Linked DNA regions of Homo sapiens. The protein of the gene in region 1 interacts with the protein of each later gene in a pairwise test. Each region holds a gene or a part of one and is shown in the gene's direction. Other genes may lie near its edges.

Evidence for each region.
Region 2: the proteins of SLC18A2 (region 1) and SLC7A1 interact in binary tests that used the Homo sapiens proteins (3 or more experiments, as listed by UniProt).

The regions. Positions count from the first base shown.
Region 1 is NC_000010.11:117,241,323-117,252,942, forward strand, and holds part of SLC18A2 (synaptic vesicular amine transporter), read left to right. Parts: intron 1-338; exon of another isoform or gene 339-356; 5' UTR 357-371; coding exon 372-492; intron 493-562; exon of another isoform or gene 563-675; intron 676-2,648; coding exon 2,649-2,991; intron 2,992-11,620. UniProt on the Homo sapiens protein: Electrogenic antiporter that exchanges one cationic monoamine with two intravesicular protons across the membrane of secretory and synaptic vesicles.
Region 2 is NC_000013.11:29,513,442-29,525,061, reverse strand, and holds part of SLC7A1 (high affinity cationic amino acid transporter 1), read left to right. Parts: intron 1-808; coding exon 809-930; intron 931-1,573; coding exon 1,574-1,796; intron 1,797-2,605; coding exon 2,606-2,745; intron 2,746-5,512; coding exon 5,513-5,615; intron 5,616-7,271; coding exon 7,272-7,489; intron 7,490-7,751; coding exon 7,752-7,918; intron 7,919-8,815; coding exon 8,816-8,924; intron 8,925-10,478; coding exon 10,479-10,582; 3' UTR 10,583-11,620. UniProt on the Homo sapiens protein: High-affinity, low capacity permease involved in the transport of the cationic amino acids (arginine, lysine and ornithine) in non-hepatic tissues.

The DNA.
Region 1 (11,620 bases):
GCTGCGGGGACCCCGGGGCAGCCGGGGCGCAGGGCGCAGGGCGCAAGGTGCACGGGGCCGAGCGTGCAGTTTGGGAGGTGGCACAGTTGGGGGCGGCGGGGATCAGGGCAGCGTCCTGGGGGTTCTAGGTTGGGTCTCCAGATTGGGTCCCCGACGGCGCTCGCGGGCGCTCTTTCCAGGGAGCGCGGGCTCTCGTGGGGACGCGCTCGAGGCAGGTGAGCCGAGGCTGGGGCGCCCGGGGGTGTCCCCGGATGCCGGTGCGCGCGGCTCCCTGACCCGCCCTTCCGCGGCCTGGGGGACGGGAGAATGGGGGGTCCACGGCCGCCTTGGGTCCTCACCGCGCACCGCGCCCGCAGCGGAGCCCCGGAGCCATGGCCCTGAGCGAGCTGGCGCTGGTCCGCTGGCTGCAGGAGAGCCGCCGCTCGCGGAAGCTCATCCTGTTCATCGTGTTCCTGGCGCTGCTGCTGGACAACATGCTGCTCACTGTCGTGGGTACGTGCGGACAGGGCACCCCTGCCCCGGCACCCCAGCCCCAGCGCCCCTTCCCCGGCACTCCACTTACCCCTGCGCGGTCCCGGAGCTCCGCCAAGGCCCGGGAAAGTTGGAGAACTCGCTTTGCAAAAAAGACATCCCCTCCAGGCTGCCGCGCCGGGGCTAGGAGGAGCCGCGTTGTGTGGCTTCGCTTTCCTGATGCTCGGGTCAAAAACTGTGACATCCGATAAGACCCAGAACTTATGTTTCCCCCTGATAATTTCCCGCATCCTCTTGCCTGCTTTCACTGCGATGAAAAAGATTTCTGTTCCAAAAGAGAAATTCCTAAAGTTCAAAATTACGTGTTAGAATAATTATTGGGCTACTCGAAAAGGCAGGTTAGTAATTTGGTGTAGTACCTAAAAGAGCAAGTTTCGATCCCTTACTCCAAAAACAAGACATTTAGATATACTGTATTAGTGAATGACTTGAGATGGAAATATTTCAGGAACCATTGCAAGAACAATTTGAACAATCTTGGTTCTATTATTTTTCCTATAGTGGAATTTTGAAAAATTAAATAATCGAAATCCAGGTCCCTTAATTAGGCCCATTAACAGAGAAGTATTTGGCATGCATTTCCTTAAAAAAAAAAATCCCAGTTTTTAATGAATGAAAAAAAAATCACGACTCATTTAGACTGTAAGTGGTGGGAGCTGTTTCCTTTCTCTCCATTTGCAGGTTTTCTCACAGCAGTTTTCAGAGCATCTGATAGGTTTCATCTCGAGGAGTTATCAGAGCCGTGGAGCTCATCCCTGTTCAGTACCAACGGCATTAGTTCTGCTTCGGCTCGAATGCTCCATTGGACACATGTGCTCACAGCTTCGATTATATGTTTCACAATTTAATTTGTATTTTTTGTTGTTGCTTTTTATTTTGGTTTTTGTTTGTTTTTTTGAAATGGAGTCTCACTCTGTTGCCCAGGCTGGAGGGCAGTGGCACAGTCTTGGCTCACTGCAACCTCCACCTCCCGGGTTCAAGTGATTCTCCTGCATTAGCCTCCCGAGTAGCTGGGTTACCGGCATGCCCCACCAAAGCTGGCTAATTTTTGTATTTTTATTAGAGACAGGATTTTGCCATGTTGGCCAGGCTGGTCTTGAACTCCTGACCTCAGGTGATCTACCCGCCTCGACCTCCCAAAATGCTGGGATTACAGGCCTGAGCCACCGTGCCTGGCCTGTTTCAGTTTTGCTTTTTCCTTGTGAAAGCCTTAGGAATTCTTAAATCTTACAAGTTGTAGGAAAAATTACAGATTCCCACTCATAATAGAAGGATGAAGTGGGCCTGTTGCAGAATTTCCAAGTTATTACTTCCTGCAGGTTAATTTTTTTCTAAGACACATAATGAAGTGTAGTTTTCTGTTTCCTTGATTCATTCATTTGAAAGTCTTTTGAGCCTCTCTTTCTTAGAAGCACTGGTTGACTCCAGGTCAGCACTCTCTTAACGTCAGGCCACATTTTGCTTTTCTGAAATATTCCTTGAAGGAACAATGTGGAAGAAACCCACAAATGACAGAATCTCTGGGACCAGTCAGTTCAGCACAGCAGCTGCCTTTTGAGAGGAGACAGTTCTCAGGGCCGTTGGGGGCATGGTTCTTTCTAGTGAGCTAAGTAAAGTGAACTTGCTCCAATGTCGTTATAGACATATGGCACAGGGCTCCTGTTTTGGGGTAGACCTGTCACCCTCTGGACCTCTTCTGGCATTTGACACAACCATAGTTTTGTTGTTGTTATTGTTGTTTTGTTTGTTTGAGACAGAGTCTCACTCTGTCACCCAGGCTGGAGTGCAGTGGTGCAATCTTTGCTCACTGCAACTTCCACCTCCCAGGTTCAAGCGATCCTCCTTTCTCAGCCTCCAAAGGAGCTGGGATTACAGGTGGGTGCCACCACGCCCAGCTAATTTTTGTATTTTTAGTAGAGAGAGGGTTTCTCCATGTTGGCCAGCCTGGTCTCGAACTCCTGACCTCAGGTGATCCACCTGCCTCAGCTTCCCAAAGTCCTGGAATTACAGGTGTGAGCCACTGCTCCCTGCCGACACAACCATAGTTTTTTGCTGGCTTTTTTCCTGGAGAGGGTTTCAGTGTGATCACCACCTTGCCATTCTGCTCTTATCCCCAGTCCCCATCATCCCAAGTTATCTGTACAGCATTAAGCATGAGAAGAATGCTACAGAAATCCAGACGGCCAGGCCAGTGCACACTGCCTCCATCTCAGACAGCTTCCAGAGCATCTTCTCCTATTATGATAACTCGACTATGGTCACCGGGAATGCTACCAGAGACCTGACACTTCATCAGACCGCCACACAGCACATGGTGACCAACGCGTCCGCTGTTCCTTCCGACTGTCCCAGTGAAGACAAAGACCTCCTGAATGAAAACGTGCAAGTTGGTCTGTTGTTTGCCTCGAAAGCCACCGTCCAGCTCATCACCAACCCTTTCATAGGACTACTGACCAACAGGTAGGGCAGACTACTTTAGTCAAAGAGTTTGATATTTGTATCAGTCCTAGCTTATGTCCTTCCTGGAATTCTGCTTCTTACTCATTGGTGAGAGTCTGGAAAATCCATGGTGGGTGAGCTGGGGAAAACCCAGTCCCCTTCCCCTATGTCTCTGTTCCCAGATAACCACAATTTCCTATTCTATTCTCCCTTCTGTTGCTCAACAAGTAAGAAAATATTAAAGAAGACAGAATAAAGAGGACCTCTTCCACCAAGTGGGAGGACTTTGGCCTGTCTAAATGCCAGGTTTCGTAAGTGCATTTGTCAGAATCGCCCTTGGCAGCAGGAACTCTACAGCCACCATGGCTGTCATCCTATTTTATGAGCCATGTGGCCTCCTCTTATCTCCTACCTCAGGCCATGCACTTCTCTGTAGAGAGCCAAGGTGTCTTCTTTTGGAACTGGCATGTTAAAGCCTCTCACAGATACCAGGTAGGGAGTGTGGGAAAAGGTTGGACGCACTGGTGCGCAGATGGAGCTCCGAGTTGATGCCGAGGTCATGGGCTGTGTTCTTCCCTTCTGCTGGCTACGTAGCCACGTCCACGTGCATGAAAGGAAGAGAACTGAGGCTGTTGTCTGGATAATCCAAGCTGCCCAAACTAGCTTCAGATGAATCAGGCTGTTCTAGATTTTTTTGAACCCACATTGTTTGGAATAACTGTTTACTTCTCCATTGTTGGTGAAGTGTTTGTTCTTCTGTAGCTGAGGTGGACCAGTTCTGCCTGGTCCGTGGGGGCTCAAAGCTCAGGACAAGGGCCTTGCAGCTGAGAGGAGGAGGCAGGCCCCCAAGGTGTCAGTGCAAGGAGTGGGAGCTGGTACAGTTAAGTGTTGGTGGTGGGCTGCCAAGTGCGCAGTGTAGCTACCTAGGTGAAAGTTACAAAACACCAGAAATGGTGGGGAGGGGTGTGCCCAGAGTCCTACCTGCAGACCAGGCCCAGAAGCAGGAACAAAGACTAGACTAGAGATGGAAGAGATGGTGGCGAGGAGAGGGTGGAACTAAGGAGGCAGGGGAAACCAGGGCTGGGCTAGGCTGTAAGAGGCCCCAAGTGCTGGGCTGAGAAAGGAGTGGGATTCTGTGTGGGGCAGTTGGGAGCCATTAGAAATTCCAAAGCCAAAAAGAAATGAGTGAATCAAGCACTATTTTAAGCAGGGTAGGTGGGCAGGGAGCAGGGAGAACTTCACATTTCCTCTGCCTTTGGCGTGGGGAGTGGGGCGCAGGACTGGCTGCATAATTTGTGGGTCTCGGTGCAAAATGAAAATGTGTGCCCCACATTCAAACATTATGAAACACTTCAAGGTGGCAGCAGAGCATTAAATCAACCAAGCTCTGAGAGCAGAGCCCTGTGCGACTCTAGGGTTAGGGGCACCGAGAGGTGAGGAAGCCTGGGGTGGTGGCTGGGGCTCAAGGAGGGGATGGCAGATCTGGCCTTCCGCCAGCACAAGCTGCCTTGGACACATGGAGCTTGAGTCGGACAGGAGCACATTCTCAACATCTGCAGTTGAATTTTCTGGATGGAAGGGTGCCATTGAATTGATTTCAACAATCTCAAGCCATGTCCAGCCCTCTAGTCTGTGCAGAGCAATATTCTAAGGCTGCTACATAAAACATGCTAAGCAAATTAACCCAGCGAAGGGCTGACTGTGAGCCCATTAAGAAGGTGACATTCAGTGACTCCTCTGTTCTCAGGAGAAAAACCAAACCGACCTCAGTAGTTGCAGGATTGTTTTCTTTCCTTTTTTCAAGACTAAGAATGCTTCTTAAAATGCATCTGGTATAATTACAGAAAATAGCTCAGGGTTTTGTATTCTGAGAAAGCAAACAGCTCAAATATTGTATGTGAAAATTGAGGACATTATCGTAATAATACCTTGCCAATCACTTGGGTGGAACGTTACTAGCCGTACAGTGTAATACTTAGAAATTCGGCTGAAATGATGTGAGTACTCCAATCTTCCAAACGCAAATGGCAAATGAAAAGCTTTTTTAAAAATCCCATTCTTATTTTTAATGCTTTGCTTATGCCATGGGGAAGAGGCTTGTTTAAAACCAGTGAGCTCTTTCCCCTGTTAAATACTCCAACGGCTTTGAGGCTGTAGCCACACCAGGCTCATGTTTGGGACTTCAAAAACATTATCTTCCATTTTGTGACTTGTGAAATTTAGTCTATTCTCATGGTGAGTAATCCACTTTAGAAATTATCTAGAGCAAAATTGTAATCCCCAACTGTTTTGTCCAGCTACCGAGCAAATTTGAAAATGATTTTCTAGTGCTGCCTGGTAATATGGAAGGACAAACAAATTTTTTTTTCTTTTTTTTTGAGATAGAGTCTTGCTCTGTCACCCAGGCTGGAGTGCAGCAGTGTGATCTTGGCTCACTGCAACCTCCACCTCCTGGGTTCAAGCAATTCACATGTCTCAGTCTCCTCAGTAGCTGGGATTACAGGCGTGCACCACTATGCCTGGCTATTTTTTGTATTTTTTGGTAGAGACGAGGTTTCACCATGTTGGCCAAGCTGGTGTCGAACTCCTGACCTCAGGTGATCTGCCCACCTCGGCCTCCCAAAGTGCTGGGATTACAGGCGTGAGCCACCGCCCTCAGCGAGCAAATAAATTTTCATATTGTGATCCTGATTTGTAATTTGTCTCATAATTTCCAAGCCCAGTAGATATGAATTTGGGGACTGGGCAGCTCTTCTGGACACTCCAAGATTCTGCTTCCCACCGCAGTTCAGATGGATTCAGAGAAGGGACAAATGTGCATTCCATTTGCCTTTAATTGTCTTCAAGGAGTTAACTTGTGAGCCATTGCAAACAGTCTTTTGATGTAAACTGTGCCAATCACATCCTCCATGAGCAAGATGTATGACTCAAGTCTTCAGTGTTGTAAACAAATGTGTTTAAAGGCTTTTTAAAATTGGTTAATATGTTTCTGATTAAAGAGTAGTTAAAAATATGGAGCATCAGAGCTTGCAGAGACTTTTCCTGAAAGCTTTTGGGCCAGTCCTAGCATTTTATAGGCAAAGGAGTTTGCAGTTCAGGAGGAGAAAGCATTTACCACAACAGTGGCAGGACTGTAGCCACATGTTCCGACTGTCCCATTTCAAGCTTTGTTCTTCCCCGCTTCCTGTTCTTCCCACCTGCTTACAATTATACAGCTTGTACCTTTAGCTACTAGAAATAAAGAATGCAGCTCAAAATCTGTCTTTCTTGCACTGACTTGGGCTCTTCCTGGTTGTACCAGGCAGAACTGCTGGAGACCCAGTGAGTTGCTGATTTTGCTACTTTTAATCAATGAGCAGAGAGTTTAGAAAAGATCAGCCTGATTCCTGTGGACATGGAACCTCCCTGGTCCCTGAAATATTCAGTCTTTTTCCAGTCCCTGATGTGAACTGGTCCAGCCTCGTGCATCCCTAAAGATGTGTGGGGAAAGCTTCCTGTAGTCAGGCTGGGCAGAGCTATTCTTTTCCAAAGCTGCTTGTTTTAACTGAAGTGGGACCCACTCTGAATCGAGACATTCTACACCACACCACACCATAACTGGAATCCTCTATTCACAGTCGTGATGGTGCCATGTGTGTGGCTTTTGTGGGTAGGAGTCACAAAATGTAGGCCGCCTGTTTATTTATTTATTTATTTAGACAGGGTCTTGCTCTATTGCCCAGGCTGGAGTGCAGTGGGGCTATCTCGGCTCACTGCAACCTCTACCTCCCAGGTTCAAGCAATTCTCCTGCCTCAGCCTCCTGAGTAGCTGAGACTACATGCCACCATGCCTGGCTAATTTTTTTTGTATTTTAGTAGAGATGGGGTTTCAGCATTTGGCCAGGCTGATCTCGAACTCCTGACCTCAAGTGATCCTCCTGCCTCAGCCTCTCAAAGTGCTGGGATTACAGGCGTGAGCCACCATGCCCGGCCCTGTCTGTTTTTTTTAAATATTCGATAAGTTCTCACACCAAACCCTGAAAATATAGAGTAACAATTCTTGGGTTCATTTAACTGCTAATAGGATGCACATTCTTCCTGTTTCATTTGTTATTCAGATCCTGTATTTCTGCTGAAAATATATGACCAGTTAGGTGGCAAAAACCTTTGATTTGGGTGTGTGTAGTGATGACCTGGCCAATAGCACACTTTCCAAGAAAGCCTGAGGTTGCTGGATTGACCTGATTTCCATGTTGGAACCTCTTGCCTCCTATTTTATAATTTTGGCTGAACTATTCATTTCATGATTGCAGTTGTGTGCAGGTGGTACCAGAAATTATACTAGTGATACTTGGTCATCATTTGGTCTAAGAAGCAAATTTTAGATATATATGTCCATAAGAGGAAAGTTCCAGGCACATGAACAATGGGACAACACGTTTACATTTCTCTCTTCCCTCAGTCAGGTAACGATATGGCATTGTGGTCTTGCTTAGCATAAGGTTGAAATAATAGTTGCATCTTCAGAACCAAAAGATATTCCACACCAAACGACTGGCTTGGGAAAGAGTTAACTTCATTGCTGGGGACCGTTTCCCTTGCTTCCTTCTTAGCTTGTCATTGTCTCAGTGATCTGCTTTTTATCAAGCCAGCGTCAATGGCTTAATTTATTTCCATAGTTACTTAGTATATTTGAAAGCAGTTCTTTTTGCTTGCAAATCTTAGCTAACATCTGAACGACAAGGAGGAAGCCACAGGGCATGAAATCTCTACGAAATCTACCATGGTTTTATTTTATTTTTTTGCTAGCTTCAGCCAGTGGGTCTGAAGTGGGCTGTGTAGGAACAAGCAGTGACCTTTTCAGCTTCTCTATGGACAGGGAAACCGGCTGTTCTGAGAAGAGATCTCCCATCCTGCATGTGGTTAGGATGGTAGGGAGGGCTTGATGAGTCTTTGCTTCTGAAATCAGAGGAAACTGGCTGTGGAATTAGAACATTCCTAGGAGAAGCAAAAGCTCTGTTAAGCTATGTGTCAGAGAACAGGGCTCACGCCCAGGAAAGTGAGAAGTCCGTGCCCCCTGGAATTCTCTGGTAGCTGAAAAAGACAAGCAGAACCTAAGAATTTTGACAAGCGGAATCGAAGAATTTTATTTACTAAATGATTGACAAACCTCCTACTATATCCAGGCAAATTGAAAATATCATTCCATTTACTGACATTCATTTACTGCACACCTTTTAGGAGTGTGTAGGGATCACTGGAAGGGAGCTGTTGTCTCTCGTTGCATCTGGTGATAGTTTGCACCCTTCGGGGCTCTGTAGTCTGTATGCTTCTTGTAATTTACCACGGTAGAGGAAACTGTGGTTTTAGCAATCATGAGAAGAGAGCTTCCATTAGTCTCTATGGCAAGGATAAGCTAATTATTAACACTAGAGAAGTATTGTCTTCATTGACCATTTAGGGACAGATGGGGTTTCTCCAATGACTAAGTATATATAATTAACATAACTTTTATTGTTTTACATGTTTTTCTAGGGATTCATTATGTGATTTTTAGTCTTACTCAAATTGGATTAACTGCTTCGTGATGCTCTGTAGAGGATGACCGTGGGCCAGTATGACATTTGGCTAAAGGTTTGCTGAATCAGATCTGGCTCTGCTTAGCAATACTTTAATTGAGAAGGCCCTGAATTGAGACAAGGGGGGCAACTCAGACACAGATTGTGACTAATGTCAGTTGAGTTTCTGTCTGTTTAGGAGATACTGTGGGGAAGCAGAAAGGGTTTGGTCCTTCTGCCCACCACTCAATGACTAGGGACGCTGGACGACTCTCCTTCTATGGTGGGTGCCCGAGGGGCCAGAAGAGTTTGAGAACGGAGACCCAGGAGCTTCCCAGGGAGTCTTCTTTGCCTTGAAGCCGAGCTCTGGGGAAAAATGATGCCCAGCGCTTACCACTGAGCAGCCCATGCAGTGGCTTGGCCTGTGTTGAAAGTGCAGGCACAGGTGTGTCCGGTACTGAGGAGGCGGCAACATGAGCCTGGTTGTATCTGAAGCCATTGGCTTGCTCTGCAGCCATGGGTGAGCCACTCTGTCTCTGAACCTCAGCTTTCTCATCTAAGGTGAGGGTTTGGACTGGCTAGCCCTTGAGTTTCCTTCTAGCTGTGATATTCGTTTATTCCATACGTGCATTGTTAAAATCCCAAAGAAAATTAAAAAGAAAAACAGTAGCTGCAGTGTTTCTAAAGAAAACACAGTACCTCAAATGGTAAAAAGAACCCTCTGTAGGCACAAACGCTGTGGTTTTCAGTGAAACTGTGCACTCTCCATCCCATGTGCTCCAGCGTCCCCACCCAGGTGCACATCAGCAGGGCCTAGCACATGTTAACACACTCAGGGTATGCCCGTAGCCTTGAATTTGGGGCAAGTAATTCACCTCCCCGAGCCTCAGTGTTGATCCTCTGAAAAATGGATAAAACCAGCTACCCTCCCTTGGAATCTCAGGCCACCCAGCATGCTGGTTCCCTGCCTACAGTCGTGGGAATGTCTGAGTCTTCAGGTAGGGAGGGACCTCAGTGGCTTCCAGCCCACCACAGCTGTGCCCTGATGGGTTACCTGGAATACTGGCTGGACTGAACAGTGGGCACAGTATGGCTGGTGGTTTGGGGGCCACAGACAAGGGTTGCCACATTTTATTGAGTTTTGTCCTGAAACCACCCAGTGTTTCTGCCTACAGTCTGGGAAAGGGCCACAGATGTCTTATTTGCCTTCAGGGATGTCCCTGCAGCCTGAAGGGTTCCATATTAGAGCCTTATAAATAGCCAAAATGAAGAACTGGTGAAACAAGAGTGAAGCCCCTAATTCCAATAGCTTTGATACGTATTGGTACTTCAACAACTAGATTTTCCAAATATATATTGAACAGAGGGAGAAGCCTGTGTTTATTCCAGGACAGCCCGGAAGATTGTCATATGCCCGTTCTTTCATGGGACAAACTGTAGTTGCTGAAAATAAATTGCCTGTGAGTTCTCCTCTCTGAGCCTCCTGGACGTTTCCTGATTCAGTATCCTGCAGTGCCGTGTGAGCCCCCGGTGTTGGGTTTCTTTTGTCCACATGAATAAGGGGTACAGAGAATCAGCTCTGGGTGGGCTGAGACAGAAGAAGCTGTCACCCGATGGCCATCTGAACTGCAGGTCAGAATCCTGGCATCTTCTCTGGTTTACCCAATTTGCTTGGGGCCCCACTTTGTGAATTACAAGCTCATCTCTGTTCACAGCAGGGGAATCTTTGCATGGTTTGTGGGAGGGGACTGACTGTCTGGGAATCTGTCATGCTTGTGAGTTACTCTCTGTATTTTTGGTATTTGGTTTCTGGATACAGGTGAAGCAGTTAAAAAATATTTGAATATGGTCAAGAGAACTTTTGGAAAGATTCTATTTAAAGCTATATATGCCGTTTGGGTACTGGCGGAGGTGGTAAAATTTACAAGGAAAAGCCATGTGGGAATGGCCCAGGCGAAATTAGTCTGATGACATCTGATAAGTAATGACAGATATCATGCCTCAGTTTCCTCATCTGTAACATAGGGAGGTGAAATAGGGCCCTTATTAAATCATGACTAAATCTGGTGGGTGTAAATGCTTGGAGAACTGAGTGTAAACTTTAAATGAAGGCGCTATGATTATTTTTTATTTATTTATTTACTTTTGAGACAGAATCTCGCTCTGTCACCCAGGCTGGAGTGCAGTGGCATGATCTCAGCGCACTACATCCTCTGCCTTCTAGGTTTAAGCAATTCTCGTGCCTCAGCCTCCCAAGTAGTTGGGATTACAGGTGTGCACTACTATGCCTGACTCATTTTTTGTATTTTTTTTTTTTTTTTTTTTTTTTTTTTTAGTACAGACAGGGTTTTGCCATGTTGCCCAGGCTGGTCTTGAACTCCTGAGCTCAGGTGATCCGCCCACCTCGGCCTCCCAAAGTGCCAGGATTACAGGCATGAGCCATCATGCTCAGCCGATTACAATTTTTTATTAAAGCCTGGAATGGAAGAACCCTTCCAGGCTGTTGCCAGAGCTCAGGATGCTTGGCCCTTCTGCCTTCCTGGATTCATTTCATTCCTCTCCAGGTTCCTGAGGGTCCAGAGCTAGAGACAGAAGAGACTTAGAGATGTTTCAGGCTCTTCTGGGTTGGAGCAAACCTTCAATTGGGCAAGAGCTCAGCCACTGTTGGCTTCCTCTCAAGGCAGAGGGGCTGGGAAGCTGCCTGTACCCTCATGCCCCACCCACAGAGCAGGGACCCAGCTGTCTACTTAATCCAGCAGAAACAGAGGACAAAGAAGAAAGAGAATGAGGGAGGAGATGACATTTCTTAGGCACCTTCTATGCTCTAGGCACTGGTGTTAACAGTTTAACATCCATATCTCTTTCTGTACTCCAGTCCTGGGAGGTGGGCGGTGGTCTCTCCGAGGGACTGAGAGGAGACCTCCCTAGATTAAGTGGCAGGGTCATGTGTCCAGCCAGACATGGCATAGGGGAATGCCAGGGTCTTTCCACCAGCCCTGTTGACCTGGCGCCAGAGTCCTAGGTGAGCAGTGGTCTCACGGAGCAATTTGGATTTTGAAATTTTGCACAGAAAATGAGACTTTGTCTTTCTGGGTTGGCCTCATGGGGTCAAC
Region 2 (11,620 bases), on another chromosome or scaffold:
CCAGGGCTTTGTACATCAGGGAACAAGGGCTTGAAGGACCCCCGACAGGGCCCTGGGAGGGGCCATAGCGCCACACTGAACCTGGGCACCGTGTCTCGGCACAGGTGTCAGATTTATGGGACTGTTTTCTGAATGTTTAAGCAGCCTGCTTCTTCTGGACTCCTGAGTTTGTAAACTGTGCTTATTTTGCTTTTGCGTTCATCAGTGTAGCAAAGATGTGCTGAGCCCCTCCCGTGGGCCAGTGCCCAGCTGTGCCCGGGCCCCACACACCTGGCAAAAGCTGCGCCCTCCTGGACTCCACCTTGTGCATACAGGCAGTTAAGGAATGCCTTTGCTGACAAAGACTTTTATTTTAGCCTTAGTTTCTCTGGAATTGTTTGTTTTGAGATTGAGTTACTGGTAAATATGGGACCCGGGGTAGGACTGGCTGGCGGCTCTGCATCCTTCCTCCGAGGGGCCCTGGGGAGAAGGGTGTGGGACTGGCCGCGTGGCTGGTTTCTCCCCCATTTCCTGTTGGACCCCTGCCTCATAGTCCCCACGTCTCCCTACCCTAGTCATTGTTTAGAAGATGCTTCTGGAAGGGGCGATACTCTGCACCCTTGTGACCCTGGGCCACGAACAGCAGGGAGGCCTGCACACACGGAGTTAGCATGCAGTGGCTGGACTCAGCGTCTGAAGCCCAGGGCCTGGCAGCGGTAACAGGGAGGGCTGACTGCCAGGTTCCGCTCATATCAGGAGATGAGCACAGCTCCTTACGCCAGACTGCGCAGCGAGTGACGTGACATTTGTTTGCGGCTCTTTTTTCTAGTGACACAAAAGAAGGGAAGCCCGGTGTTGGTGGATTCATGCCCTTCGGGTTCTCTGGTGTCCTGTCGGGGGCAGCGACTTGCTTCTATGCCTTCGTGGGCTTTGACTGCATCGCCACCACAGGTATGTCCGCCAGCCACTGCGGTCCCGGGTCCTCCTGCACCCTGGGCAAACAAGCCAATGCTTGCCATTTCCCTCCTTGCTGGCACGGTCCAGTCGCCGCTCTTTCACACATGAGCAACATGTAGATTTGTAGCTTCCTGCCAAGCCCTCCCACCCCCAAACCATTATCACATCCCCAACTGTCAACACCTGATGAAAGCTGGATCTTGAATAAGGCTAAGGTTCCGCTGTTAGAATGGGATCATAGCTGTGTGGCTGTGGCCTGATTTCATATCTGAGCGTCTTCCGGGAGGAGTGAGGCTATTCACAACATTGTCATCCTGGCGGACTGAATAGGCCAGGCTTCAGTGAGCCTCCCAGATTTTCTCTGCCAAAGGAAACAAGTCTCTTCCTTGGCTGCATCACCACATTCAGGCCGAGAACACTGTTGCAGGGCCATGGGCTGTCTGATGTGTCTTCCTGAGCACCACCCCTCTGCTCCCGGAAGCACAGGAGGCCCCAGTGCCCACAGGGCTGAGTGCTGGAGGGAGGTTTCTCGTAGGGTCACGTGGGTTCCGGGGCACTGAGAGGCCTTGGGTGTCATGTGGGCAGATACACTGCCTCTTGCTGTGTGCCCTCCTCCGCTGACCCCTTGTGCTTCTAGGTGAAGAGGTGAAGAACCCACAGAAGGCCATCCCCGTGGGGATCGTGGCGTCCCTCTTGATCTGCTTCATCGCCTACTTTGGGGTGTCGGCTGCCCTCACGCTCATGATGCCCTACTTCTGCCTGGACAATAACAGCCCCCTGCCCGACGCCTTTAAGCACGTGGGCTGGGAAGGTGCCAAGTACGCAGTGGCCGTGGGCTCCCTCTGCGCTCTTTCCGCCAGGTGAGAGGCCTTTCTGTGGTGGCTGCTCCTAGGGGTGGAACCACCAGCAGGGGTTAGGCTATAGCAGGCCAGGTACAGCCATGCGAGACACACATCGGCTGCCAGCATTCTTTACCCTTGAAATAGACCCAGTACCCAACCCAGCTTTGATCATGTGGCTTTTCCCTTGTTGGCCAGTATTCATCATCCCAAGAGTTGTGTTATTGAGAAGAACCTGAGGCTGGCTTTTCAGCATCATCTGCTTAGCAAGGGACTGGTTCTCTGTCCCTAAATCTGGCCACTGGAACAGGCCCGCTGTTTGAACACCATATTTTGGCCCTCAGTTTAGCTGTCATGCAGAAGCTACTTTGATGAAGGGAATAAGTGCCTTTTAATGAGAAACATTTTCACCAATCGTATTTCCTCTTAGCCTGTATAAACAGAGCTATTTGGTAAATATTGATTTACCACAGGGAAATCTTCATGAATGCAGTGATGCTTGTATTTTCTGTTTGATTCAGCTAGAAATAATTGCAGGAATAAATACAGTTTTCCATCTGTAAAGACTGTACTGGGTCTCATGCTAGTGTATGTTAGATAGATGTTCCCTATTCTTTACCTTAATCCTTATTCACAGTGTGTGCTCTTTCTGGGATTGATTTATTAAATGCCAAGTCTTTTAGCCACAGGCCTCACCCAGCGTGGAGGGACGGCAGCTCTTGGTGAGCTCAGACTCCCTCTCCTCCGTGGTAAACCGAGCATGGCTGGATGTGGTGCCTTTATCCCTTATGAGCCAGGTTCACTCACGCGGTTTGCCTCTCCCCATCTAGTCTTCTAGGTTCCATGTTTCCCATGCCTCGGGTTATCTATGCCATGGCTGAGGATGGACTGCTATTTAAATTCTTAGCCAACGTCAATGATAGGACCAAAACACCAATAATCGCCACATTAGCCTCGGGTGCCGTTGCTGGTGAGTACTAGAACTCATTTCACATGGAAATGTTTTAACAATGGAGTCATTACTCCCTAGGGAGACGTCTTGCGCAGTTCTGGTCTGTGAGTAATCTTAACTGGTCTTTTTAACTCCTGGTTTTTATACTTGGAGCCTGGTTCATTGAAAGTTGACTGACCTTTTGACAAAAGGCAGAGGCCCGTTTGACAGAGGATGGGAGAGAATTTTTGAACAGTTTGCACTCTGGTTTTCATCTCAATGGGCGGAGCTTAGAACACACAGTATTCGAAAACCTTTTCTCCCCATTTCTGGACGTTTCCCTGAGTAGTCAAGGGCAGGCTGACACCTTCCTGCATGACACAGGCCAAGGGAGACCTCGCCAGTACCTGGAAATTCGGCGTCCATTTCTGAATTCTCTGGAAAACAAGTGTCCCTTATGATCAGTGTTTTATGAAATGTGCCGCCTCTTCCCCAGAGAGTATCAAGGGTGCTGCTGATGAAGCCACTTGCCCCTAAGTTTATACGTAATAGCAGACCCAGTGGAGTTTCATCTTGTCAGATGAGCCTCATCGCTGAGAGGACCATTTTGATGGATGAAATCAGTGGACTAATCTGAGCCGTGTAGGTGTTCCAGGGCCCCAGATGAAGGAAAGGAGAACCTACAAGGAAGCTCGTGTGCACACTGTACCTGTGGTCTATGTCTCCTCCTTTCGCGATTGCATTTCATAGCCCCGAGAGGCAGACGCCCGCCCCTTTCGCAATTGCATTTCGTAGCCCCAAAAGGCAGACGTCAGCCCACTGTACAGATGTAGAAGTGGAGGCCCAGGGAGGTGAAGCGAGGATGTGCACCCAGGGCGGTGGAGCGGCCTTGTGATTCCAGGGTTGTTTTTATGCCAAAGTAGCCAAGCTCCTTCCAGAGTCTGAGCAGAGCAGTGGGTCTTTTTGGCAAATTAGGGCATGTGAGATCAGTCACAGTTTCTAACACAGCGACTTGTCAAATAGCCATTGGTAAGGCACTTGACCTTCTTAAATGAATGAATTATTCACTAAGTTTTATTAGCATTTATGCCTTTAGCAAACTGTGCTTAGTTTTGTGGATTAATATTGTATAATAAAACACACCTATTTTTAAATTATGAAACATTTTCTTATGTGATTCTATGCTCTTGAGAGTGACCACAGTGGTCAGATTGAGAGGCACTATACATCAGAATGTGACCAGTATATTTACAGGATTAAGGACTTGGAAATAGTCATTGTTTTCTCAGGCTTTACGTGGAATTTGATCATATTAAAGACTGGCCTTAATTTCCTTCCCCTGCTGATAGAGGGAGATCAAATCATGCTCTTTGAAGTGACTGTAAAGTACATGCCATTCACAAAATCCAGGATTTACCCTTTTCATTTGGTGGGAGTGGTAAATAAGTATTTGGTTTTCTAAAATCACCTCACATGGAAGAAATTAGTCTCAAGTTTCCCGTGAGTAGGAACATCGGCATTTGTGGCATGCACAGTTGGGCGCTGTTCTGATTATCCAAAAGGCCCTCCCTCATTGCTCTTTAATTTTGTGTTTTATTCTCCATTTAAATTTGTTTTAGTTGCAGTGATCTAGAGGGGCTTGAGAGATATTTGTGGAAAAATAATGGCTTTGTGTTTATATTTTAGCTTGTGTTGATTGCATGTGTTTTGAAAATATCCCAAAGCAGATGTAGCCAAGTTGTTTTTTAATGAGTACTTGACATACACACCCATGTGAATAGACACGTATACTCTCACAACGCTCACAAAAGATGTTCAAATAAGGGTGCAGGTTTTAATTCATTTTAAAGGCAAGGGACACAGTGAAGGGGCTGATACTATATTGTTTGAGAACAACTCTTCAGATTTCTTCCACGTGAAGTGACTTCACATGTGAAGAACTCTGCTCTCCTGCCCGCCTGCCTGGGTTAGGACCTCCTGTGAGTCCTCCCAGAGCACCAGACTTGCCCTTCTTTATCACCCAGCACTGTTGTCCACTAATGCCTGTGTCTTGGTGGGGTACACTCAGGAAGGCTGGGGACTGTGGTCTGCCCTGTTCAATAGTGAGTACCTAGAACCCAATGATGGGCACACTCTGACCGGAGCTGGATGGATGGAAGATGGGTAGATGGATAGATGCTGAATGGATGGATGGGTGGATCGGATGGATGAATGGATGGATGGATAGATAGATGGATGAGATGGATGGGAGATGGGCAGATGGATGAGATGGATTGATGGATGGATGGTGAGTGGATGAATGGAAGATAGGTGGACAGATGGATTGATGGAGAATGGATGGACCGATAGGATGGATGATGGATGGATGCACATGAGTCTGTGAATCAGCATGGTCTAGAGGAAGACACACAGGACTCAGAGTCATAAGAACCCAGTTCACATCCTTATACCCTATGCTTGTGAACTGTGTGACCTTAGATGAGTCTCCTAACCTTTGTGAATGTTTATATCTATAATGTAGGGATGGCTTACAAAGTTGCCATTAAAATCACAAGAATGAAGGGATTCTCTATACAAATGTTAATGATGATTACTGTCTGTTGAGGACTGTGTCTGTGATTTAATCACAAGCTTAAAGGGAAGCTTGACTTCCCTTTAAGCTGTGTCTTTCCATGGGAAGGCCAGGGAGGGGGTGGGAGTAAAAGCAGCCCCCTTCGCTGCCCTGGATGGTGGGCGGCAGTGGTGGTCCTGGTTGTCATTGCATGCAGATGGCCCTCCACAGATCCTGGTGTCTGTCTCTTCCCAGCTGTGATGGCCTTCCTCTTTGACCTGAAGGACTTGGTGGACCTCATGTCCATTGGCACTCTCCTGGCTTACTCGTTGGTGGCTGCCTGTGTGTTGGTCTTACGGTATGTATGGCTTTTGGGGGTCTCATGACAGAAATGCAGATGCACCTGGTAGCCTTTTCACAGTTCAGCTATGGTTTATGTGATGAATGAAACTTTTAGGTTGGTGATAGCTCCATTGGGAGCTGCCAAGGAGAGGGGAGGACCTGGGTTGAGAGCCCAGTTAGGAGGACGTCCTTGGCAAGAGTTGGGTGGCCCCTCACCCCCCTCTATCATGTGCCCTCATTTTTATGGCTAAATGTTGGGTGGATAGAGACAGATTCTCGGTCCAACTATTAGGCCAGGATCCTGGGATCAGAAGGTTTGAAGACTGATTGCAACTTGGTTCAGATTCTTGGGACAGAGAGGATTGAGGGCTGCCCTGGTAGGAGTTAGGAAAACCCAAGGCCTGTGAAACCCAGCTCAGCATAATGCTTCTGCAGCTTCGTTGCGCTGTGGCTGGAGGAATGAATCCCATTATGTGGCATGGCGTGCCCTAGGTTGATGTTCAGAGACACTGTGGAGTCAGCTTGTTATAGCCTGGTGGGGGCCAGGCAAGCCTCTCCCAGTCACAGTAAAGCTGCTCTGGGCCTAGGCTTGGTGTCTCGGTGTTCTCACCTGCCTCAGCACCCACTCCCAAAGCACATCCCTGCGCAGCTTCCATCCTGAGAACCTGTGCTCATGGAGACGCTCAGCACTGGTCTCCCCTCAAGAGCCTCCTCATTTCTTTTCAGGGATTCCCACCTGCAAGGCCATTGATTGCATTTCCAAGGTGTTCAGCAGCTGATGCACATAAAACCCGGGCTGAGCCTTAGCAGAAGCTCTTTAGAATCAGCTAAGACTATTGGGGACCCCTTATTCCTCCCAAGGGGCCCAATGCTAGAATATTCTCTGAGGTCTCCCACTTTCTTAATTGACCGAGTGGGGTTGCACAAGTGAATCCATACAAAAATGGTTAATATCTTTATACTCCCTCTTAGAATTGATCATATGCAAAATAATTCATACAGAACTCTGTGTTTCAAAGCTGGTGGAAAAGATTTGCACTCTGTTCATTTCGGGTGGGAAGATAAGGCACCTCATTCAGAATGGATGCTCCACTAGCAGGTAGCTCATGTCTTGGAAATCACGCTGCAGGCTCGGCCCTCCAACAAGCCACATAGAATTATTTACCCTAAGGTACTTGGAGTTTTAAAATAAATTGATCCAATTAAGTCACACAAATAGAATTTCTCAAATCCATCTAGCCTGCAGCCACATTTCTCTGGCTCTCTGTGCCAAATAGGATCCTGGCATTACTGCTTCCTATTTCTCTCCTTCCCTTTTGCTCCCTACAGCAGTAATTTTGTGGGAAGTGGCCTAGTATCTTTAGCATCTGAGGGCCGCTGCCACTTCTCAGAGCAAGAGAGATCCTCTCAGGGTATTCCTCTGGGCTGCTCATGGTGGAGGTCATGTCGCCCCGAAGGAGAGACCATGGAGGATGTTCCCCAGAAGCAACAGCGGGAGGTGGTGTTCCCGGTCTCTCCTCGTCTATCTACAATGCAGCATTTGACTATATCCTTCCCATTTTATACCTTGTGTCCCGGGCAGCTCACTTTGGAGGCTTATTGAGAACTTGAGTTGGTGCACGTCATTTTGCTTGAAGCAGATGTGGCGGTCACGCAATGCCTTTCTTCCCAGGTACCAGCCAGAGCAGCCTAACCTGGTATACCAGATGGCCAGTACTTCCGACGAGTTAGATCCAGCAGACCAAAATGAATTGGCAAGCACCAATGATTCCCAGCTGGGCTTTTTACCAGAGGCAGAGATGTTCTCTTTGAAAACCATACTCTCACCCAAAAACATGGAGCCTTCCAAAATCTCTGGGCTAATTGTGAACATTTCAACCAGCCTCATAGGTAAGAGCTAGCCCTTCCCTGGGGCCTTGCTTGTTGGCATTGCATGGTTTCTAGGCAGTGGAGCTGGAGTTGGGGGAAGGTGCCAGAGAAGATGAGCATCTGTCTTGCTCCTGGACTGGGACATAGTTACTCTGTGTTAACTGTAGTTGTGCCTTCGGAAATGGAGCCTCTCTCTCCACAAGTTTAGGGGAGAACAGTGGATGCCTGTGGGAAATTGGGAAATGGTTGAGTTGCAGCTTGCTGTCTTTTCCTTCCCCCTTAGCTGTTCTCATCATCACCTTCTGCATTGTGACCGTGCTTGGAAGGGAGGCTCTCACCAAAGGGGCGCTGTGGGCAGTCTTTCTGCTCGCAGGGTCTGCCCTCCTCTGTGCCGTGGTCACGGGCGTCATCTGGAGGCAGCCCGAGAGCAAGACCAAGCTCTCATTTAAGGTGAGCAGCTCGGCCTAGGGAAGGAACCCTGGTACACAGACCCTGGCCCTCCTGATGCCTGGCCAGCCCTGCGTGGGCTCAGCCGGGCCTGGGTGCTCCCGAGGAAGGTTTTTGCTAGCCAGCTTCAGGTAAGATGGGGCAGGGGTCCTGAAGGCACAGAGAGGACCAGACCCTGGAAGGAGGCAGCAGCCCTTCTCCCCTGGACGTTTCCCTGAGTAGTCAAGGGCAGGCTGACACCTTCCTGCATGACACAGGCCAAGAGAGACCTCGCCAGTCCCTGGATATTCGGCATCTATTTCTGAATTCTCTGGAAAATAAATGTCCCTTGTGATCAGTGTTTTATGAAATGTGCTGCCTCTTCCCCAGACAGTATCAAGGGTGCTGCTCATGAAGCCACTTGCCCCTAAGTTTATACATAATAGCAGACCCAGTGGAGCAGTCCCTCCGGGGTGGTGGGATGCTTCTCGTAAATGTCTGCTCAAGTTGATGCATGAGTTTTCCAAGCCTTGGAGACGGGCAAGGCTTCTGCATTTTTAGATTACACAAATAATAAAAAAGGTTGTTGACCTTAGAGGTAAAGTGGAGGTCCGTCTTCTAGTCCTTTCTTTAGCAGGAGAATCGCAACAGAGAAAAATGAGAATGGAGTTCATTTGGCCATTCAGAGCTTAGAATCAAATCCCCACCTACTAAGATGTACCCTTGGGTGTGTTTGTGTGTGTGTTTGGGTGCGGGCTGTGTGTGGGGTGTGGGAGTGGGGGTGGGCACTCCCTCTCTCTTCCCCACACTCGCCCGACGGTCCCTGTCACTCTCAGTTGTGCTGCCTTTACTAGACAGTTTTACTGAACTATTGGAACCGGCGCCACTGCCATGGATTGAAGCCACCTCCTGTCTCTTCAGGTTCCCTTCCTGCCAGTGCTCCCCATCCTGAGCATCTTCGTGAACGTCTATCTCATGATGCAGCTGGACCAGGGCACCTGGGTCCGGTTTGCTGTGTGGATGCTGATAGGTATGTGATGCTGCTGCCAGCACGTCCAAGATCCTGGCTTCCCCTGGGGGTCTCCCTTGTTTCAGATTTCATAACAGAATGACGCACATCCAGTCAGCAGCTTTCTCGAAGATAATGCTGAATCCCTGGTAGGCTGTGAGTCCTCTCCTCCCTGTTAGATACTTTTTGTTTCCATTGCTTCTTGTCCAAACTATTTATTCTTTTGGGCAAGACCTTGATATTAACAGGAACAAGGTGATGAGTCTGCTGCAGATAAGGTACCAGTTATTTTCACCCCAGACAGGAAAGTCTGGCCTGTGCCTCCTGGCCCCCTGGCCTGCCCAGCACCAAATTGGTACGGGCACTAGGCCCAGGCAGGGTGGATGTCATGGGCTCCTCTGTGATTGCGTCTTCTCTGTGGAGGGAGAGTGCTTTGGAGCCTATGGGAGATGCCACTAGGGTGGGGAGCTTCCACATGAGATAGATCACCAGGGGTGGGTGCAGCCTGTAGTCCCACGCCTCTGGGCATCTCACCCCAGGGGCTGGAGGGGAGGATCTCATTTCCTTCCCCTCAGCATCTGAGTCATAGTGCTGATAGCCAGGAAAGTGGCCCTGGCCATTGCCCCTCAGGACCATGTCCCTACAGCCTCGCAGCCCTGAGTTTGCATGCTACGGGCAGATGGCTGCTGCCTCATCTCCCAGGGCCCTCGAGGGGTGCTTTTCCTCCAGGAAATACTTTGCGGCCCACTGTCTGCTGGCAGCCGGGTGGGTCCTCATTCCCTGCAAAGTCCAGCCTGTTAGACAGACGTCTCCTAGAGCCTTTCTGAGAAAAAGCTGCTCACAGCTCACTGGCCACTTCCTCCAGGCCTGGTGAAGGCAGAGGGGCGCCTCTTCCCAGCATCCCTGTCAAAGTCCCTGTGTGCAGGAGCCTGAGCTCCTTTCCTGGGCTGTGGGTGGCTGAGTCCTTGCTTTAAGGCCTGTTTTCCTGTGTCAGCCACACAAGGTGGCCCCAGCCCCTGGGCAGGTGGTAAGAAGCATAGGTCCTGGACCCACCCTGGAGTCCCGTGTGCAGGAACAGGCTGTGGACTCCTATGTGAAGTCCATTCCTGGGGCTCAGTGTCTCCTGCAGTCTGACGCTCAGTTATGTGGAGAAATGGGCAGTGGGACTGTCCAGGCTGAGAGCCTGGAGACCTCCAGCACCTGCGGGAAACCCCATCTCCATAGTGCACATTCTCGATACTCTCGTGGCCTCCGGGGGCATCAGGGGGCTAAGCTGAAGGACCCGATGGCCTCTGGTGGCCCTGGCCCAGCTGCTCTGTCTGCTCAGGAAACACCGCAGCATAAGGCCGTCCAGAGGAACGTAGGGCTTTGCCAGATGTCGAAGCAGACAGTGGCCTTCGTGTGGCAGCTGCTCCAGATGTGGAAAGGTCACAGGGGCCGCTGGCTGCGGGCTCATGCCAGGCAGGGGCAGGCCGCCTGAGAGGGTTTGCTGTGGGACCGCCCTGGGCTCTGAGCCCTGCCTGCGGTGGTGCAACCGGCGGTCTGTTCACGCCCGTCTCTGCTGTCGGCCCGCAGGCTTCATCATCTACTTTGGCTATGGCCTGTGGCACAGCGAGGAGGCGTCCCTGGATGCCGACCAAGCAAGGACTCCTGACGGCAACTTGGACCAGTGCAAGTGACGCACAGCCCCGCCCCCCGGAGGTGGCAGCAGCCCCGAGGGACGCCCCCAGAGGACCGGGAGGCACCCCACCCTCCCCACCAGTGCAACAGAAACCACCTGCGTCCACACCCTCACTGCAGCCAAAGGTGCAATTACTTGACCTGCAGCCCCAGCCCACCCTCGGCTCTGCAGCCGGTTCTCCGGGCCCTGGTCACCTCCAGACAGCTGCCTGGCCGGGGCCACTAGGCTGCGGCTGGCCACTGTGTCTCCTCACTTCTCTGAACAAAGCAGTTCCTCCCCTACCAGCTCAGCCCCGAGCTGCCGCAGCCTCAGGCAGAACGGAGGTCACCTTCTCTCCTTATCTTGGGAACCAGGCCTTCCTCCCGGGGACTGTTCTGGGATTGAAATTGTGCATACTCCAAACTTTCGCAGCCATCTTCCCGCTCAGCCCCAGACACCCAGCAATCAAGCCAGATGAGTACCACAAAACAGTGTGTCCCCAGCAGCTCCCCACCCCAGAGCCAAATGACAGTAGTGCACTTAAAAAGGAAAATCAGGCCTGTTGTCCTTCTCCGGTTGCATTCAGATGGGTCATTAGGGCCGGACCCTGCCTGCCCCTTGGCTTCTCAGGGCTTTGCTCTGACACCATGACAGCTGCCCGGGGCTGAGGGCAGCTGGCTCCACTCAAATGAGGAAGAAGGGATCACTCCCATTAGGGCCTGCTTTGCTTATGCATGTGTGTGCACATGCATGTAAACCAGGGACCTTCAGCTCACGGCCTCCAGGCCTGGGCCAGTTCTTGCTGCTCCTGCCGTCTCCCCCGACTGGCTGTGTCCTGAGTAACTGGAACATGAGACAGTATCTGCAGGACTGGCCCCATGGTGGCCGAGTCAGAAGTCTGTTTCCTGTGAGTCGCCACCGTTCACTCAGTCTTGCCCTCCCATGCTTTGGAGCCAGTCTGGTGGCTCCTGTAAGGTTCTCAAGGCTGGTGGCAGCTCAGTCTGGGGTCAGGACATGTCGGGGTCATGCGTTTCTGGCCCTGACATAAGCTGTCTGG